Linked DNA regions of Homo sapiens: region 2 is linked to region 1. Evidence: fine-mapped expression QTL. A gene starts in region 1. The other region holds a variant in brackets. All regions are shown on one strand. Distances are between the middles of the regions.

Region 1 (10,284 bases):
CCTCCACCTGGGGCTCCTGGGACTGGAGAGGATGCCGCTCTGGCTGGTGTGGCCCTGCTCCGCCCCCCGTGTGACCTTGGGTAAGTGTCTTTGTTCTCTGGATGGCTGTGTTCCCATCTGCGCAAGGAGGTGCAAGGAAGGATTTAGAAGAGGTTTCTGGGCTACCTCAATTTCATCCAATTGAAGCAACGCTCGGTAAGAAGAGCAAGCACAGGAGCCTGGCCCTCCTCACCCGCTCTGAGGCCTGCTGCCCTCAGGGGGTTCTCATGGGGCGGAGGAGAGGCCGTAATTAGCAGGTTCACCGGGTGGCGCTGGGGCAGAAGCTACTAGAGTTCCCAGGATGGAGACCAGCCCTGTGGAGAAGGGAGGGGCTTGCAAAGGTGTCCTGAAAGGACTGTCATAAACAGAACAAAAAACAGAACAACAACAACAAAAATCCCAGGAAAGGCATCGTGGCCAGCTTGAGCAGAGGCATGAAGGAGAAGGCAGCTGGCACTCGTGAAGCCCTCCTAGGAATCTGGCCCCGTCCCAGGTGCTCGAGATACAGTCTCATTTATCCCACGCAACCCGGGAGGCAGGCGGGAGGGGAATGATCACACAGAAGGCTCAGGTGATGTCTTCAAGGTCACACGGCTGGGAAGCTGAAGAGCCTTGGCTCGAACTCTGGCAACAAAGACTCTAGACCTGCACTGTCCACTCTAGTGGCCCCTGGCCACCGTGATATTGACATGTGCTGTGAATGGAAAATACACATACTGGGTTTCAAAGACTTAGTATGAAAAGGGAGGCAAAATATCCCATTAACAACATACATATGTGTGTGTGTGTATAATTTTTTTTTTTTTTTTGAGACAGAGCCTCACTCTGTCACCCAGGCTGGAGTACAGTGGCGCGATCTTGGCTCAATGCAACCTCCACCTCCTGGGTTCAAGCGATTATCCTGCCTCAGCCTCCCGAGTAGCTGGGACTACAGGTGTGCACCACCATGCTAGCTAATTTTTGTATTTACTTTAGTAGAGATGGGGGGTTTCACCATGTTGACCAGGCTGGTCTCGAACTTCCGACCTCAGGTGATCCACCCGCCTCGACCTCCCAAAGTGCTGGGTTTACAGGCGTGAGCCACCGCGCCCAGCCCTAACAACTTTTATATTGATTACATGTTGAAATATGTTGGATATATTGAGTTAAATAAAATATATTATGAATTAATCACACCTATTTCTTGTACTATTTTAGTCCGGCTACCAGAAAATTTGACAGGAATATGTGGCTTACATTATATTTCTTTTGGACAAAGCTGGTCTACACTATGAAAAAACAGATTTAAAGGACAGAGTTAAAGAAGGAGAGTGGGACCTCCCTTCCATCTTTGGTGGGGAGCTGGGGCCAGGTAGGTGCAAGCATCAAAGACTGAGCAATTGAGTCTCTGCATCCCCATCTCTGTCCCAGCTGGGCCAGCCAGCAACAGGTGCACTCAGGCCTGGGATGAGCACTCCCCTGGCCCTAGCACATCAAGCCATAGTAGTTACCATAGAGATAATAAATATTCCTAAAAACTGAACTTGGGGAAGTGGAGATGGGGAAATCTACCATAGAGAGAGGGGCAACCAGGCTTATCCGGAGAGGAAACCTGTGTCTGTTGTGTGTTGGGGGTGGGGTGGTGTGTGAGCTCCCACTCCAGGCCAGGAGAGGGAGGGAGGCACAGCCCAGGCAAGTGTTTGCACAGGACTTTCCGGGCCTTCCTCCCTAACTGCCCCACGCCCCTCTTAGCCACCACTCCCCACCTCCCTTTACCAATTCACCACAAATTTCCTATCTCATTCCCCCATGCTGACAATCTGACTCAGAGACCTGAGTAGAAGTGGGAGCAGATAAGTGCCAGCCCTCCCTGATCCCACCCTCTCTGGCTCTGCCCCTGGCAGAGGCAGTTCCCCTAAGAACGTCAAAGGGGGTGGTCTGGGGCCAGAAAAAAAACAAGTTGGAGAGCGCTACAGTGCCAGAAGTAGTACCATTCCTTCTTCAGCTGAGAAAGGGTGGGAAGACCTCCTCCCAGGCAGAGCCTTACTGTTAGAGCTAACACCAGCTTTGCCAGTCACTTTCCTGGCCATCTTGAACGGGGGCTGTACAGGGACATTGGTCCCCCTATCTGTGTACAGAAGCCTTTTGTGAACTGACTACAGGTCCCAGGTATTCTCTGATTTCTCCCCCAAAGGATGGCGCTTATGCTCCCAGGTCCCCGGCAGCATGGTGCATGCGTGACAGCGGCTGGCGTTTTTGGGAGGTGCTCAATATTCCTGCTCTCTAGACCAAAGTAAGTTTCTCTTTGGGATAGCTCGACCCAGAAACTGATGCCACTGGTACCCACTTCCAATTTCCTCCAGCGGAAGGACAGAGAGCCAAGGGGGGTTGAAAGCAGGAATGGGGGGAGGGGGAAGCCTCTGCCCTCCCATCAGAATTCTTCCCTTCCATTTGACACAAAACTCCATTCAACAGACGGGGAGACTGAGGCCCAGAGAAGGCACCAGGTGGCATGTGGTTTATGCCCGGGCTCTCTTCCCTCAATTGCCGCAAAGTTCTCTTTAGAGTCTGTCCAAAAATAAATCCTTCCCTCTCTCCTATCTCCTCTCTCTCTCTGTTGTGTGTGTGTTTGATAGCTCCAGATTTTACTAAGCTATAGTTACGCAGGTTCTGGGCCAGCATGCCAGGCACACAGTACTGCTCTCCTCCTGCAGGGAGCCCCTTCCTATGCCAGTCTGGCCAAAGTCCTTCCCTCTCAAAGCTCCACCATTCCCAACCAGTAGCAGCTCAGTCTAGGGCAAATTCTTACCCCTAGACCCACCCCTAATTGCTGGGGAAGGGAGCCAGCAGAAGGCAATTCCAGAACCACGTGCGTCCCCCAAAGGCCCAATGATCAATCAACTCACAAACGGGCAAACAGACCTAAACACACGCTGAGACTGGCCCAAGGTCACACACCAAGCACATTAGGAGCAAAGCTGGGGCTAGAACCCAGTTGTTCTATCGATCCCAATCCCGTCCCCAAGGCTGATTCCCAGAGATGCTCCCTGAGGATGAGGCTCCACGTCTCTAGCTCCAGAGGCCTGCGCCCTACCCTACACCCCAAGCACCATAGAGCAGGGGGAGGCGTCTCCAGGCCTCTGTACAGGGCCAGCTGCAAACCGCAGCCTGGGTCCCCAGGCGCCGCGGACCCGCCCCGCCCCTCCCTCCGCTCCCCGCAGCCCGGAGCCTTTGTCAGCCACGCGCTCACACACAACCGCGCCGCCACGCGCACACACACCCGGTCTCCCTAGCGCACACCCGCAAGGGGCGCGCGCACTCGCCGCACGCACGCAGGGGGGTGGAGGCGGCGGAGAAAGGAAGGAACTGACGGGCCATGGACGGACAGACGACCTGGGCTGGGGGAAGGGAAGGGAAGGAGGCCCGGGAACCGGCAGCTGGGGTCGGAGGGGGCGCAGAGACAAGGAGACAGAGAGACGCAGAGGAGACTCTTGGAGAGGAGGACAACGGATGGGCCGTCAAGGGCTGGAGAGGACGCGCGGGCTGCTCCAGGGGTGGGGACTCCTCTATCCCTTGGCCCCGGGTGTGTATGAGCGGGGAGCTGGATTGTACCCGTGGTGCACGGAGGCATCCCTTGCCCAGTTGTGCCTGAGCAGAGGGTCCGTAGGGACCTCACGTAGGGCCTGGAGATAGCAGGCCTGAGACCAAAAGCTCTCTGGGGTACCTCCCTCGAGGCGGGTGGTGGGATGGGGTGGGGTCTTGGTCCTCGGGCTGGGTGGGGCACTCGCTCACCTGCCACGGTGTACCTGTCCAGGTAGTTGAGCACGTTGCCCAAGCTGAGGATGGCGGCGGCTGCCCCCCGCCCGCGGCCCAAGCTGGCCGGTTTGGGCTGCTGAGCGCCGGGGCCCTTTGCAGTAGCTGCGCAGCCGGGGGTGCCGGGGGTGCCGGGGGGTCCGGTCGGGGCCCGCCTTACGCTGCCCGACAGCGTCTGCACCTCATCGCCCGCGGCCGAGACTCCAGCGCCGCCCGCGCCCCGCGCCCCGCAGCAACCGCTACCGCCAGCCCCTCGCTGCGCCCCCCGGCGCCGGCGCCGCCGCTCCGCGTCCGCCTCCTCCTCCTCCGCGCCGCCCGCCGCCGCCGAGGCGCATTCCAGGCACATCATGCCGGCCCGGATCGGGGCGGCGGGGGGCGCGGGGGGCGCGGGGCCCAGGCTGGGCCCGCTCAGCGCGTGCGTGCGCCGCGGAGCCGCCACTGCACCATCCTGGTCGGGCCCCGTCGGCTCCTGCGCTCCGGCCCCGGCTGCGGCGCTGCCACCGCTCAGCTCGCTGCGCCTCGTTCGCCGCCGCGGCTCTGACAGCTGCGGCCCGGCCCCGCCCACCAGGCCCGCGCCCAATCAGCTCCGGGCTCGGGCCACAGCCCCGCCCCGCACGTGCTGCCCTGGGGGTGGGGGGCCCGGGGACTGGGGGCCCGGGCGGCAGAGCCCCTCCTGCCAATGGGGGCGCAGTCACGCCGGGGCCGACCGGCCGCGAACGCCCGCGGGGAGCGGGAGAGGGTTTGCTCTGGCTACGGAGCTGGGAGCAGGGTGCTGGTGACGGGGCTCCCAGCACCTACTCAGTACCCTTCACCCAACCCCTGCCTCGGGCGTGGACTCCCGGCGGAGGCTCTGGGAGCCGGGCTGAGGGCTTGAGCCTAGCGTATCTGGGAGAACTGGAGAGAGGAGTCTCAGATGGCTAAAGTCAGGGGCGCCAGTTGGAGAGCCGGTGGCTCCTCCGATACTCACACGCCCGGATTTAACCAGTTCAGGGAGGGCCCAGAACCTAGACCTCCACCAGTCATGGTGGGCTGTGTCTCCCACCTCCCCAGGGCAACCCAGATCCAGCCCCCAACCTACCCCGGGCCCATTCCTGTGTGGGCACCCGGACCCTACCCTTGCCCCACAGAGTGGCCCGCAGCCCCTGGCGGGGAGAGCAAGGGCTGTGATTGGGGCCCAACAGAAACAGGATATTCAGAAGGGGCTTTCCCTCCTGAGGGACCACATCTCCAAGCTTCAGACTTCCAGGTATGTGCTAGAGAGGGTACAAAGCCCCCAGTGGCAGACAGGAGGCTGGGTCCTAGCTCAGCTCTGCCCTGGTGTGTGGCATGATCCTGAACATGACACCCACTCTCTGGGCCTCCATTTCTGTATCTGGGGGCAGATGGCAGGATGGGATTCAGTCTGGAAATCCACGGGTGGTCACCTCCCCTTGGTGGGACGGGGCGGGGGTCTGCCTCCTATGGAGAGTGGTTGGGGTGCTTCTGTGTTCCTGACATCCCATCACGGTTTCACCCCTCCTTAGAGGTGCTGTGGCTCTGTGACGATCTCCCCCTTCCCTCCCCCATTCACCTGTTTGGGGAATTAAAATCGAAATTAAAATCCTGTATAAAGTGCAGAGGACAGAATGTTAGAACTGGACAAACCCTCGGAAACCAGTTAATCATTCCCTGTGTTTCACAGACAAGTCCCAGGGCACGGACGTGACCCATTACGAACAGGCAGTGAAGCTGTGGCAGGGCTGGAGCTGCCCCAGGCTCTGGCATCATCCCCGAGGGCTGGAGCTCACTCCCCGCTAGAGGCTTTTCCGGACCCCACGTCCACAGGCAGGTGCATCTGGTGAAGCTTTCGGCCACAGTGAGTCATGGCATAGCCAACGGGTGACACAGCACGAGGCACCCCCCCCGCCCCCCTCCACTGTCTCTTGTGAGCAGAGTTAATCCCCAAGCTGGTGTTTCTTGGCGCCTTCGAGGTGTATTTTAAATTCTGCAAAGTGACTAAAAATATGCTTCAGCGTGCTGGGTATGAATGACTGTGACGGGAGGGTTAGGAAAACAGATTTCATTCTCAAAGTTGCCTGCTGCCTCTTTCCAGCTCGCTGAGCTCAGGCCTGCAAAGGCGGATGGGGGGAGTTCCCCATGGTGGCCTGGCATGACGGGTGATTAACAAACAAGGACAGAGAGCTAGGAGCTCCGTGGGGCTAGAACCCGGCCCCAGCAATGATCTCGTAAGTGTGTGATGGTGCCAGCAGGTGGACAGAGTCCAGCTGTGGGAGGCTGCCCAGCTGTGGAACTGTGTCTAGTGGTGAAGGAGGCACAACCACAACTCTAGACCCAAGCCCAGGGTCCCCTTCCCGTGCCCCAAAACTCCTCATCCCTTTGGCCACAGTCCTGTCCAGGTGGACACTTTCGGCCTTGACAGAAAGGGGAGCATTCTCTTTCTGCTGCCTTCCCTTTTCACCACTGGGAAGGTCCCAGAGCAGGGGAAGAGGGTGGCATGAGCCTTTCAAACCTGGGGGACCTCTGAGCTGCCACCAAGCAAGCCAGCCCTTCCCACTGTGTTTCACTGGGGTTTCAACTCAAAGGCAGCCTCTAGAATAAGTCCTTGTGTGGGATAAGGGGCCACCAAGGGCAGAGGGACAGGGAGGACAAGAAGCCCTTTCTGGTTGTGCAGCCCAGGACAAATCCCTACAGCCTTCTGAGAAGCTCTGGCAGTAACCTGGGGCTGTCAGACAGAGGACTGGTAGGGTTCTTTCCTCCATCTCGCCAATGAAGAAACTGAGGCCCAGGGAAAAGAAGTAATTTGCCCAAGGTCGAACACCTGGTAAATGACAGTGCATGGACTAAACCCAGGTGTGTTTACCCTCTAATCCAGCACTTCCTCCACTGCACGCTGCCCTCAGACTGGGCGGGATTCTGTTTCTTCATCAGTATAACAGGAGGCTGAACTCCGTGGCTAAAGGACCTTCTGATATTCATTCATTAGGTCTAGATCACAGCTTCAAAACAAATGGGGGCCGGCGTGGTGGCTCATACCTGTAATGCCAGCACTTTGGGAGGCCGAGGTGGGTGGATCACCTGAGGTCAGGAGTTCGAGACCAGCCTGGCCAACATGGTGAAACCCGGTCTCTACTAAAAATACAAAAATTAGCCAGGCGTGGTGGGGCGCGCCTGTAATCCCAGCTACTTAGGAGGCTGAGGCAGGAGAATTGCTTGAACTTGGGAGGCAGAGGTTGCAGTGAGCCAAGATCATGCCACTGCACTCCAGCCTCGGTGACAGAGTGAGACTCCATCTCAAAAACAAAAACAAAAACAAAAAACAAAAGTGGGGGGAAAAAAAGAAAAGAACACACACAAAAAAGAAAAAAATGGGGCACAGAACATTAATGGCCATTATTCAAAGAGCAGTCATACTTGGGAAGTAGTGGGATAAACACAGAAAAGTAGGTTTCCTTAGGGACTTTTGAGAGCCTTTACTATGAGAATACATGCTCTGAGTCTCCCAGAGGGAGATATAGGATGCCACGTTCCCAGGTGTGTGTGACCACAGAATGTCTTGCAAGACGAGAGCTCTGCAGGACACACTCTGAGAAACACTGGCCTAGAATGCACTTGCTCCTCCTTGGCTGGTAATTGGGAGCTCAGCCCATCTGCCCTCTGCCCATCCTCCCACATGGGAGTGTCTCCAGGGCTCAGGCCTCGGTTGTTTCCCTTCCCCCTTGGCAGCCTCTCACCTAGGCCTGAAATTTACTTTTTTTGAAAAAATTTTTAAGAGGCAGGGTCTCTCTCTGTCACCCAGGCTGGAACGCAGTGGTGCAATCATAGCTCATCATAACTTTGACCTCTTGGGCTCAAGGGATCCTCCTTAAGAAGGGGCTTCCTGATGCTGGGCGCGGTGGCTCATGCCTGTAATCCCAGCACTTTGGGAGGCCAAGGCGAGCAGATCACTTGAGGTCAGGAATTCAAGATCAGCCTAGCCAACATGGAGAAACCCCATCTCTAGTGAAAACACAAAAATTAGCTGGGTGTGGTGGCATGCGCCTGTCATCCCAGCTACTTGGGAGGAGAATTGCTTGAACCCAGGAGGCGGAGGTTGTAGTGAGCCGAGATCACACCACTGCACTCCAGCGTGGGTGACAGAGTGAGACTCTGTCTCAAAACAACAACAACAACAAAAAACAAAAAAACAAAAAACAAAAAAAAGAGAGCCAAGACAGACAGGAGCAAAGACAGAGAAACGGAGACTTTCATATTCCAGCCTGGGTGACAGAGCAAGACTCCATCTCAGGAAGAAAAAAATAATAATAAAAAATAAAAATATATATATAAAAAAGAAGAGTCTTCCTCTCCTGAGGATCCACACCTCAGCTTCCCAAAAGGCTGGGACTATAAGCGTGCACCACCACACCCAGCAATTTTTTTTTTAGGAAAAAGGTCTCACTATGTTGACCAGGCTGGTCTCAAACTCTAGGGCTCAAGTGATCCTCCCACCTCAGCCTACCAAAATGCTGGGGTTAGAGGGGTGAGCACCATGTGCAGCTGTGGCCTCAACTTTCAATGATCATCCATGTGACTATGACACCCCAACCTCCATCTCTAGACAGGGCCTCATCTCCAAACACGAGATCCATATGCAGCCTCCTACACGTGCCCCCCACCAGATATCCCACATGTACCTTAGGCTCAGCACATTTGAAACTGAACTTGTCATCCTTCCCCCAACCTGCTCCCACTCTGGTATCATTTATCTTTTGTCAAAAACACCATCATCCACACTGTCGCCAAGCAGAAAGCCTGGGAGCCATGTGGGGCTCCTTCTCCTCAACAGCCACATCTAAGGGCTTTCAATTTCCTCTCTTGAACATCTCCCCACGTCCACATTGCCCACTGGCTTAGCTCAGGCCTCTCTGTGTCTTACCTGGACCCTTGTAAAGCTCAACATTACCTGTTCCCACATCCCCCTCCAGTTTTGTTTGTTTGTTTTTTGAGACGGAGTCCTGCTCTGTCACCCAGGCTGGAGTGCAATGGCACAATCTCGGCTCACTGCAACCTCTGCCTCCTGGGTTCAAGCAATTCTCCTGCCTCAGCCTCCTGAGTAGCTGGGATTACAGGTGTGCACCACCATGCCCGGCTAATTTTTTTTATTTTTAGTAGAGACGGGGTTTCATCATGTTGGCCAGGCTGGTCTCGAACTCCTGGCCTCAAGTGATCCACCCACCTTGGCATCCCAAAGTGCTGGGATTACAGGCGTGAGCCACTGTGCTCGGCCGGCCCTCCAGTCGTTTCTCCATATTGCTTATCAGTCACTTTCTGAATCCCACAAAGGACCTCATCACTACCTTGAGCAAAACCTTTCTAAGGCTCTTCACTGGCTATAGGGTTAAAAATGTCTACGTTCCTGGCCGGGCGCAGTGACTCACGCCTGTAATCCCAGCACTTCGGGAAGCCGAGGCGGGCGGATCACGAGGTCAGGAGATCGAGACAATCCTGGCTAACATGGTGAAACCCTGTCTCTACTAAAAAATACAAAAAATTAGCTGGGCGTGGTGGTGGGCGCCTGTTGTCCCATCTACTCGGGAGGCTGAGGCAGGAGAATGGCGTGAACCCAGGAGGCGGAGCTTGCAGTGAGCCGAGATCGCGCCACTGCACTCCAGTCTGGGTGACAGAGCGAGACTCTGTTTCAAAAAAAAAAACTACATTCCTTAATGATCTCCAAGAGCCTTCACAACTTTTCACAACCCATGACAATCTCCAGCCTCAGATCCTACGGCCCATCTCTCAAAATTACCCTCTGCCACACTGAACATGGAGCTTCTTGAACTCACAGTTATAATACTTCCTGGAGCCTGGGGGAGGGGCAAGAATTGGGGCACTATTCTATAGCCCCTGTCCTCCTATCAACAAAAAAGCCCTTGTCCCACTAGCACAGCGATGATTCAGGACCATGGAGAGCATCCCGCGTGCAACCCCTGACCCCGACCCTGACTGAGGCATGCTCTGCCTGTGTGGCCTATTCACTCTTCCCACTTGTCCTTCAGGAACCCAGCACAGAAACAGCTTCCTCCGGGAAGCCTTCCCCGGCCCACCTGAACAACCATTTCCTCCTCTGGGCTATTGAGTAACCTGTGTATCCTTCCATCACACCAACACTGTGCTGATTTTTGTCTGTGCAAGAATCTGTCCCCCGCCCTTCACCAACAGACCGTGAGCCTCGAGGGCCCGTACCCTTTCTGATTCATCTCCACGAGCCAGTACAGAGGAGGTGCTCAAAGAATGTTTGTTGATTGAATGAGTAAATGACATTTAGCAGGTGCTCAGGAAATGTACATTGATTTGCATCACGCGTCTGTTGCTCTGAATGACTCAGAAACCAGATTCGTCTCCTGGTTCCTCTGGAAAAGGCATTTTCTTCCTGATTGACTCCACCCTCCATTAGCTTCCACCTGCTGTTTGCCT
Region 2 (10,284 bases), 32 kb before region 1:
CAGGCGCTCCCTGGGGGTGGAGGCAGGAGAGGGGGTCCTGCCCAGCACCAAGAGCACTTAATCTGCACGGACTCCTCCCTTCACTCTGGGCCTGTGCAGTGACCCTGGCGCACCCCTGCCACCGCCTGGCTCCGTGCTGAGGCTCTGAACTGCGCCAGGCCTCCCCACCACCACCGCAGCCCATGGACTCGGGAGGACACAGAGCCACCCCAGGGGGAAGCGGATACGCCCGGAGGCTCAGGGTGGGGTAAGGCAGGCTTCCCGAAGTGCAGGGGCCGCAGTGCCTGGCACACTCATCTCCCGGGCTGTCCCATGCTGGGGCACCCAAACCCGGGCACCCTGAGAATCCACCCGAGTCCTTCCTCTCTGCCCCAGAGCCTGCCCTGACACCTCCCAGACACTCTCTCCTGTCCCCTCCTGACCCTGGCCAGGCTGACCCTTGGGCACAGGACCAAGTGTCACACTCACCCCTGCCACGCCCAGAGGGCCATGAACTCCTAGCTCCACTCCTGGCTCCTCCCAGGGTGCTCCCATCCCCACCCAGGGACACAAGCCCCTGCTGGCCGCTCAAGACAGCCCTTTGTCCCCAGCTGGCTGGGCTAGAGCCCATTGTTGGCCCTGTGAAGACAGCCTCTGTCCGCCCAGCCCCAGCCGCAGGCACGCCTGGGAGCCAGGCTGAGTAGAGAGGGCAGAGCCTATGGATGCTCAGACCCAGCGGGGGGAGGAGGGCGGGCAGGCAGCGCCACCTCAGTGCCAGCCTGGCACCGCCAGCCTCCCAGCCACTAACCTGAGCCTCGAGATGCCCCCTCCCCCTCAGTCTCCACATGGTGCTCTGTCTGCCTGCCCAACCCTGTTTTCCAGCCCTGGCCAGAGGCAGACCCCAAACTCTCTGATCCCCTCCCTGCCTCTGGGTTCACGTTCCTGGCAGGCCTGCCTTCCTACCAGCTCTCCCGCCCCTTCACCCGCCCTCCCCAGGCACCCCTGTGAGGTCAAGAGGCCTGGGTCAGCAGCACAAGGTGACCTCGGCCTGCCTGGCTCACCATGAGGATGTCTGCAGTGATGGCCCAGTTAGAAAACAGCAGCGTCTCCCCGACGAAGATACAGATCTGCCGGGGAGAAGGCAAAGCCACCATCAGCGGTCCCTCCATCCGCAGCAACCACAGTCTCTGTTCCCTACACACTGGCTGCTGGCAGGGAGCCCACAAAACCTCACACCCCTCCCGGGCCCACATCCATTCATGGGCTATCCAGAGACTTCAAGCCATGCCCACGGCCCTGAGGCACCCAGAGGCCCTGGACAGGCTGTGTGTGGCCAGGCTGGGGATGAGCAGGGGCAGCCAGAGAATAGGAGCCTCCCCGAGGGAAGGGAACATCCAGTAAGTCAGACCGAATGTCCTGTTCCAGACCCTCCCGCGGCCCAGGCCCAGCTCCCCCAGCACCCTTGACCCCCGCTGCACTCACATAGGCTCCTACGATGCTGCTCTTGGCAGCCACGAAGATCAGGCAGATGAAGATGGCAGAGCCCAGCATGCCCACGGCACACACCAGTGGGTCGGCCCGCTGGGTCTTCAGGCGGCACCAGCGCGTGGCTCCTGCCCCCGTGACCACGCCCAGAAATCCCGTAAAGCAGGTGATGGCCCCAAAGATGAGGCTGTGGGGACAGAGGATGGTGGCGCACGAGTTGAGGCGGCTCAGGGCTAAGGCTGAGGGGCTCTCCTGTCCGAGGTCCCTCACCAGCCCTGGGCCCACCCCGCGGGGCCCCACCTGTCCTTGGCCCCACAGGGCGGGCTGTTGCACGTCTCTGCTGTCTTCTGCACAACTTGGGCGCGGTGCAGGTAGAGCGGGATCCACATGCCCAGGGCCCCCGTGGCGAAGGAGACAGCCGACGTGGCCAGGGAGGAGAAGACGTAGCTGCGGCTGGGGAGAGGCCAGGCAGTGACACTGAGCTCAGGGACCTCCTTCACCCCCCTAGGCAGCCCCATGCACTGGGGGAACAGGAGGCCCCCAAATGCCTCGTCTTACAGGCTCCAGGGGTGAGGGTTCAGGCTGCAGGAATAATCGATTCTGGGGCCAAAATGTCCCTCCCAGCACTGAGACAGCAGAGGTGGGGTGTCTGGCTGAGGGTGCTAGTGGGCTGCCCTGCAGGGACAGGCCCTCTCATCTCAGCACCCCTCTCTCTTCCCACCAGACCCCTTCCCGCGGTACTCACTTTCGAATCAGGGCCTTCATATCTCGGAGCCATGAGGTCCGGGCCTTGAGCTGGTCCCCGAGCTGGTCGGCATGACCCCTTTTAGTGGCTGGGACCAGAATGAGGATGAGTGTTCCTGTGATCATGCCCAGGACAGGGGACACCTGCCAGAGAGCAGGAAGTTAGGACACCAGGGCCCAGTGAGCCTCGTCCCTGCTGCAGAAGGAGGGACTCAGGCAAGCCCATGCCTTCTCTGGGCCATAGGCTTCTCCTCTGAGCAGGTATCTGCCCAGCCTTCCTAATTGGGCTGCTGAGAAAAGCTGGGGCTGAGGTCGGTCAAGAGACTGGAGGCTTGAGATGGCCTGTCCAGACCAGGGGCAGGACCAGAGGTGGGAAGGTGCAGGGAAGCCAGACAGACTGAAGGAAGAAGGAGGGGTGGGTGAGTGGAGCAGTGGGTGGATAGATAGAGAAGAGATGGCTAAAGAGGTTGATGGAGAGATGGACAGAGATAGATGGAGGGATGGACGGATAGATGGACAGATGGACAGACGGATGGACAGATGGATGAACGGATAGATAGACGGACGGATGGTGGATGGATGGACAGACGGATGGAAAATAAGTAGATAGCCAGATGGGATGATGACTTTGAGGGAGGAGAAAATTCCTGGAGCAGGTTCCCCACGTAGGTTCCTCAGCCGCAGGGCCCTGGGAAGGTGCTGTTTGGGTATGAAGCGCTGGACTGACAGATCAAGTGGGCTGGCATTTGGTGGGGGCCCGATGCAGGCCCCACAGAGGCTCCCGAGCCCTTTTGGATCTTCCCCGTTTCCAGCCCATTTTCCAGAACAGAACCTCCAAGGCCCCAGGCTTCTCTCCGGGTGGGAGGGTAACACCCTGGCAGCCTGGATTCCATCTCACCAGCCCCGCAGAACACTCTCCCCCATGCCCCCGGGACTGGGAGCCCCTGGGTTGGGGAGTTCCTCTGCCTGCCACCTCCCTCTCGCCTCCCCATCCCCCCACCCCACTAAGAAATTCCACGGAGGCCGCTTCCTTCCTGCTTTTAGGAAAAAACACTTTGTCTTAAGCTTCCGCTCCTCCGAGAGACGAGGGATCTCTGTTTCCTCCGATTGCGCTGTCCTGGGGCCTTGGTAACTTGCCCCAAACCCAGCGAGACCGGAAGTGGCTCCAGACTCTGGGGCCCCCACACAGAGGTCTTGTCCCAGCCTTACCCTAGCACAGCGCCAGGGCTGGAGGCAGGAAGCACCGCCATGGACCTGGAATTTCCTGACGTGGTGGGAGAATCCTTGGTTCTCTCAACCTGGGACTCCCGGGTGGGAGATTCCAACCCTCAGCCTGGGGGCCCCGAGGGCGGCGGGGCTGTGTCTGGCTCTGACACCTCAATCGGGACATCTGAGCGCTCTGATACCTCAATCTGGACTAATCTGGAAGGGCAGGGATTTCAGAGTCCACGCAGCCAGGGGAGGAATCCTGGAGGCCTAGGTCCTAGCCTGGATTACATCTCTGGGCAACCCTGGGGCGAGGTCTGGACCGGAGGGTGTCCTCATGGGAAGGGACGTAGGGCTTACCCGCAATGCCCAGTGCCAGTCTCCGGCTGCCTGCTTCACGCTGGAGCCAGTAATGTAGCCCAGGCCACTGCAGAGAAGAGACACACGTCAGGCTGAGCAGAGACAGGGGCTGGGGACAGGGAGTGCCCGCTGGTCTGCAAGGCAGGCTGCCCACCCTCCCCACCCAGCCAGCTGGCCAGGGAGCAGGTCCAGGAGATTCTCAAAGGCTGACCGCCCACATGTTTAGCTCTCTGAGGACGCCTGCCTGGGCTAGAACCCCAGGGAGTGGGAGAACTCAGAAGTCCAAGGGAACCTTGCCCAGATCCTCACCCAGACCCTGGCATCTCCGGCTCTCACCTGCCCAGTGGGATGGCGAAGTAGAAGACGGACAGCATGAGCGTACGCGTGTTCTTGGTGAAGAGGTCGCCAATGATAGTGGGGGCGATGGTGGAGTAGCTGGCCTCCCCGATGCCCACCAGCCCCCGGGACAGGACCAGCAGCCAGAAGTACTGTGAGGAGGGGTGGAGGATGCTGGGGGACCGACTACCCACCGTCTGCCTGTCATCCCTTGTTCCCACTTTGCTCCCTCCCCCTGCAGGGCCCAGGAGCCAG[G/C]GGAGAGAAGGGTGAGGGTGCTGGTGGGCTGCACCTCCGTAAAGACCACCTCCCCCAGCCACTCCGGGCCTCAGTTTGCCCCTCTGTATAGTGGGTCTGACGGGGCCTGGCCGGCCCAGTGCTGGTATGGGACGGGACTATCCCAGCTTGAGAGTGGTATGGCCCAGGTAGGCCCCCTCTGTCCTCATAGGCACTGGGGACACAAGCCTATGTCTCCACTACTCCACCAACTGGGAGACCCCTCCCTGGTTCTGACTTCACTTCGGGAGCCTCAAGCCACCACCCTCCACTCTGTGTGTCTCTCCCAAGCCGGGTGGCTAGGCCAACCCTGGCAGCACTGAGGGCCCAGTGTGAAGTGGGGAGTGGGGAGTGGGGCGTTGGCAGGGAAGCCCAGGGGACCCAGAGCCCCTCCCCCTGCACACACCAAAGGGCAAAGCCCAGCTGAGTGGGGAAGGGTGGGGCCCTGCCAGCTGCTGGTAGCATGACCCCTTTGATGTGGACCTGCTCCCTCCGTCCCCCAGCTGCCCGGGGCCTGAGAACCCAGCCTGGTCATCTTTCCCCAGCCCCACCCTGGCCACCCATCTGGCCAGCATCGCCCGCGTCCAGCCCTCCCCCGGGTCTCCCTGACTTCCCTCCATCTGCTCACCTCGCTCCTGGCTTGCTGTGCCTGCAGGTGCTGCCTGGGTTGGCCCATCTCTGACCCCTTCATGCTTGTCTCTCTTTTTCCATCTCCCCATTTGCCCTTAGCTCCTCGCCTCTGTTTCTCTTCCTGGGAATCACCTGCCTACAGCCTTGGCCTGTTTTTCTGGTGGGTCATTTGTCTCTTTTGCATTGATTTCTTTTTTTTTCTTCTTTTTTCAGATGGAGTCTTCCTCTGTCACTCAGGCTGGAGTGCAGTGGCGCGATCTCACTCACTGCAACCTCTGCCCCCCGGGTTCAAGCGATTCTCCTGCCTCAGCCTCCTGAGGAGGTGGGATTATAGGCACCCGACACCACACCCAGCTAATTTTTGAATTTTTGTAGAGACGGGGTTTTGCCATGTTGGCCAGGCTGCTCTTGATCTGCCTGCCTCAGCCTCCCAAAGTGCTGGGATTACAGGCGTGGGCCACCACATCCGGCCCCCTGTGTGCTTTTAAAGAACAAACATGAGGCTGGGCATGGGGGCTCGTGCCTATAATCCCAGCACTTTAGGAGGCTGAGGCAGGAGGATTGCTTGAGGCCAGGAGTTCGAGACCAGCCTGGGTAACATAGTGAGACCTCGTCTCTAAAAAAATTTAAAAATAAGATAAAAATCGGGCCAGGCGCAGTGGCTCACGCCTGTAATCCCAGCACTTTGGGAGGCTGAGTCGGGTGGATCACAAGGCCAGGAGTTCAAGACCAGCCTGGCCAAGATGGTGAAGCCCCATCTCTACTAAAAATACAAAAATTAGCCGGGTGTGTTGGCGGGTGCCTGTGATCCCAGCTACTGGAGAGGCTGAGGCAGAGAGTTGCTTGAACTCGGGAGGTGGAGGTTGCAGTGAGCCAAGATTGCGCCACTGCACTCCAGCCTGGGTGACAGAGCAAGACTCCATTTCAAAAAAAAAAAAGAAAAGATAAAAATTAGCGGGATCATGATGCATCCTAGCTACTTAGGAGACTGAGACAGGAGGATCAGTTGAGCCCAGGAAGTCAAGCCTGCAGTGAGCTGTGATCACACCACTGCATATCAGCCTAGGTGACAGAGCGAGACCCTGTCTCAAAAACACATTTAAGGCTGGGCATGGTGGGCTCACATCTGTAATCCCAGCACTTTGGGAAGTCAAGGCAAGTGGATCACCTGAGGTCAGGAGTTCGAGACCAGCCTGGCCAACACGGTGAAAACCCTTCTCTACTAAAAATACAAAAATTAGCTGGGCATGGTGGCAGTCGCCTATAATCGCAGCTACGCGGGAGGCTGAGGCAGGAGAATCGCTTGAACCTGGTGGTGGAGGAGGGGGTGGCAGAGGTTGCAGTGAGCCGAGATTGTGCCACTGCACTCCAGCCTGGGTGAAAGAGCGAAACTCTGTCTCAAAATAAACAATATTTAAAAATAAAATGGACATGAAAGGAAACCCTCCACGCATCTTATCCTGTAACTTGCTTTTGCTCCCTCATTCTTATCTTTTTGAAACCCATTTATGCTGGTTAATTAAGATCTAGTTCATTCTTTTCCTGTTGAGTCTCACAGGGCCCGGCACAGTGGCTCACACCTATAATTCCAGCACTTTAGGAGGCTGAGGCGGTAGGATCACCTGAGGTCAGGAGTTCCAGACTAGCCTTGTCAACATGGTGAAACCCCATCTCTATTAAAAATACAAAAATTAGCTGGGTGTGGTGGCGCGTGCCTGTAATCCCAGCTACTTGGGAGGCTGAGGCAGGAGAATCGCTTGAACCCGGGAGGCGGAGGTTGCAGTGAACCCAGATTGTGCCATTGCACTCCAGCCTGGGCAGCAAGAGCGAAACTCCGTCTAAAAAAAAAAGAAAAGAGTCATACATACACACCATTAATCTGTGCACACCCAGTGATGGTCATTTAGATTGCTTCCTTTTTTTTTTTTTTTGGCTATTCCAGTGCTTCTTACATGCATGTGTCTACAAGCTGGAGTTTCTCTCTTGGGTGTATACCCCAAGTAGAAGGCTGGGCCACGGGAGATAAACAGAGTTTTACAATATCCTGCCGTTTCGCTCTCCAAAGAGCCTCTACCAATTTACACTCCCACCAGCAGGGCTGGAGTCCCCGATTCCCCACAGCTTTGATCACACTTGGTATTGTCAGCCTTTTTAATTGTTGCCAATCTGACGGGTGTGAAATGGGATCTCATTGTTGTTCTAATTTGCATTTCCCTGGTTACTAGAGAAGCTGAGCCCTGTCTCTTCCTACACGTATTGGCCGTTTGGGTGTCTTCTCCTGAAACTGTCTGTAGCTATCCCGTGCCCATTTTTCTACTGAGTTATTTGTCTTTTTCTTGTTGATTTATAGTTCTAGATTTTAAGAGCTTGCTTTTTGCTTTACTTTCCCCTATCGGGACTTTATTCTGCAAGATGGTTTGAAACACAGGCCAAACTTTTCTTTCAATCCAGATGGATAGATAGTTCTTCCCAAACCACTCATTTGAGATGCAACTTTCATCCTACACTAAATCCCCACAGAAATGAGGACTCTGGCTCATTGATCTTAGTCCATCCCTCTGCTGTTTTAGTTACAATCACTGTATTTTGATAACTGAGAGGCAAATCCCCTTTCACTGTTATTTTTTCACAATGTTCTTGGCTGTTCCTGGGCATTTTCTCTGCCAAATTAACTTCAGAATCACATTGCCAAAGTCTACCAGAAACCCCTATGGGATGCAAATTGTGATTTCAGTGCATTTATGGATTCACTGGAGGTGACCTGTTTCTCTCTCTGCCTTTGCTTATCTTCTGTCTCCTTCCACACACCCAGAGATGGACCCGGACCTGGCATGGTGGTCCTAGACTTACTGGTCAGTCCCAGGAGCAGCCTCAGAGGTTGGTGACCAGGGGCCTGGCCAGGGGCAAGACAAGGTCCTGAGGGGCCCTAGAGGCCTCTGGTCCAGTCCTTATTTTTGACTGTGGCCACCAGGCTCTGCTTGCCATCCTGGGCCTGGAGCTTTACCTGACCTGACCCTCCTCTGCGAAGCTGCCCCATGAAGCAAGGATGTCCTTGGCAAACCTGCTGATTCTCTCTGCCCTCCCTCCAATGTCCCCACCATCAACCCAAATCTGACCCCGCCATTGTTCTTCAAACTTTTCCAGAGCTCAGCACTGCCACAGAAGGAAGCCCAGGCCCTCTAGCCTGGCATTCAAGGTTCTCCATGACCCAGTCCCTGCTTTCTTTCCAGTGAAAATGCAATCCTCAATCTTTCTTTCTTTTTCTTTTTTTTTTTTTGAGATGGAGTTTTGCTCTTGTCACCCAGGCTGGAGTGCAGTGGTGCGATCTCTGCTCACTGCAACCTCTGCCTTCGAGGTTCAAGCGATTCTCCTGCCTCAGCCTCCCAAGTAGCTGGGATTATAGGCATGCACCACCATGCCTGGCTAATTTTTGTATTTTTAGTAGAGATGGGGTTTCTCCATGTTGGCCAGGCTGGTCTCGAACTCCTGACCTCAGGGGATCCACCCGCCTTGGCCTTCCAAAGTGCTGGGATTACAGGCATGAACCATCACACCTGGCCCAATCCTCAATCTTTCAACACACTCCACCATTTCTGCATCAGTGGGTTGGCTCCCTCTGCCCATGCTACCTTCACCAAAAGGCCTGATCTCACAGTCCTGCCTGCCCAGCGCAAACGCCACCTCCTCCAGGAAGCCCTCCCTGACCCCACGGATTTCAAGAGACTGTTGTCTCTTTAGTGAGGACTCTCAGCACTTTTTCTACACCTCTTGAAGGCTCTGAACACAGGAGTTCCTGTCAAATCTTCCTACCCCGAAGCCTGGGTGCTCCCAAGGACAGGGCTATCCTGAAAGCTCCTTGAAGACAGATCATGCTCTCCCCTTCTTCCTTCATCTTTCTCTATAGCAGCCGGCATGTGATTGCCACTCTCTGCTTGAATACGCCTCGAGATGGGGAACTCACTACCTCACAAGGCAACAGTCTCATCTTTGGAAGGAGGAACAGAAACAATGACTGGCTGAGCACTCGCCGTGTTCCAGGGTCTGGACCTTCACAGCTCAGCTACTTCTCAAGGGAAACCTTCGAGTTGGGAAGTATTATCCCCATTTTAAAGATGAGGAAACTGAGGCTCAGAGACATTAAGTTCCTCCAGGTCACAAAGCTGAGTAGGAAACAAAGTTGGGATATTCAAGCCCAGGCCTGTGGGAGCTAAATGAGAAGACTCTTGTTTGTGTTGAATTGATATTTGCTTCTCTGGGATGTCGATCTAAGAAGTCAGCTGGTCATCAGACCAAGCACAAACTGAGCAAGAACCAGAGAGGGGTAGTGACTCCCCCAGGGTCACACAGCCAGATAATGGCAGAGCCAGGGCTAGGACTCAAGGCCCTCACTCCTAGGCCAGACTTGTTCTTTGCATCCATCCCAAATCAGAGGGATGCTCAGAAAGAGTCAGGAGGCCACATGGGCTGGAAGGCTCTCAGGTCAGGCCAGCGTGGGGAAGGCCCCAGCCGCAGGGCTGGTTTATAAAAATACCCGAAGACCACCTGTCCTTCTGCACTGGGAAGACAGTGGGGTTCAAGCAAAGGAGCTGGAAGCCCTGGGCTGGATTCTTCAACAGGCCAATAAGACTAGCCACTCGCTGGAGGGACCAGGACACAGGGGTCGGGGAGAAGCCGAGCCGGGCCTCACCTGCTGGGGAATGAAGGAGCTGGAGAAGGTGACGGCCGACCAGAAGAAAATGCCGCAGCTGAGAATCACCTTCCTGTTGAAGCGGTCGCCCAGGTAGCCGAAGATGGGGGCAGCCACCATGAAGCTACAGATGAACACTGCAGGGAGAGGAGAGCTTGAGGGGGGGCCCAGGTCCCTGCGCCCCGGCCTCCCGGCCCATTTCACTCCGGCTTGGGGCCAAGAGTCTGTGGAGCAAAGGGACCAAGGAAGCAGCCCAGAGAGGAAACCTCGGCCCGACCTGCACCCCAGGAAGGTGGGAAAGGCCTTACGAGGTCAGGCAGGTCCATGACGCCATCCTCTCCCATGTATGTCCAGTTCGCCCAGTTTGTCCAGGTTTGGGTGAGCCCTTTGGGTACTTTTTAAAAGAGTCAAGATCTATTTATTGAACACTTTCTACATGCCACACACTATGCTAGGGGCTCACCATGTCATATCTCACATATCTTTTTAAAATTTTATTTTTATTGTTTTGAGACAGGGTCTCGCTCTGTCACCCAGGCTGGAGTGCCGTGGCACACTCTCGGCTCACTGCAACCTCCATCTCC

Evidence for each region. PIP is the estimated chance that this variant, and not a neighbour inherited with it, causes the effect.
Region 2: its variant is fine-mapped to the expression of SPNS2 in whole blood (TOPMed, PIP above 0.99).

Annotation. Positions count from the first base shown.
Region 1 is chr17:4,492,944-4,503,227 of GRCh38, reverse strand. SPNS2 (SPNS lysolipid transporter 2, sphingosine-1-phosphate) reads right to left here and starts at 4,347. Exons shown (of 13, transcript NM_001124758.3): 1 at 3,811-4,347. The coding sequence starts at 4,180. SPNS2-AS1 (SPNS2 antisense RNA 1) reads left to right here and starts at 4,493. Exons shown (of 3, transcript XR_001752763.2): 1 at 4,493-5,077; 2 at 5,513-5,686. RefSeq lists enhancers at 1-124, 125-641, 2,913-3,547, 3,548-4,183 and silencers at 4,225-4,274, 4,335-4,484, 4,495-4,554.
Region 2 is chr17:4,524,610-4,534,893 of GRCh38, reverse strand. SPNS2 (SPNS lysolipid transporter 2, sphingosine-1-phosphate) reads right to left here. Exons shown (of 13, transcript NM_001124758.3): 3 at 9,701-9,837; 4 at 4,111-4,262; 5 at 3,775-3,841; 6 at 2,210-2,352; 7 at 1,765-1,917; 8 at 1,462-1,651; 9 at 1,041-1,106. Among named protein-coding and RNA genes, the nearest start is that of MYBBP1A, 26 kb to the left of the region's middle. The variant G/C (reference allele first, on the strand shown) is at 4,366.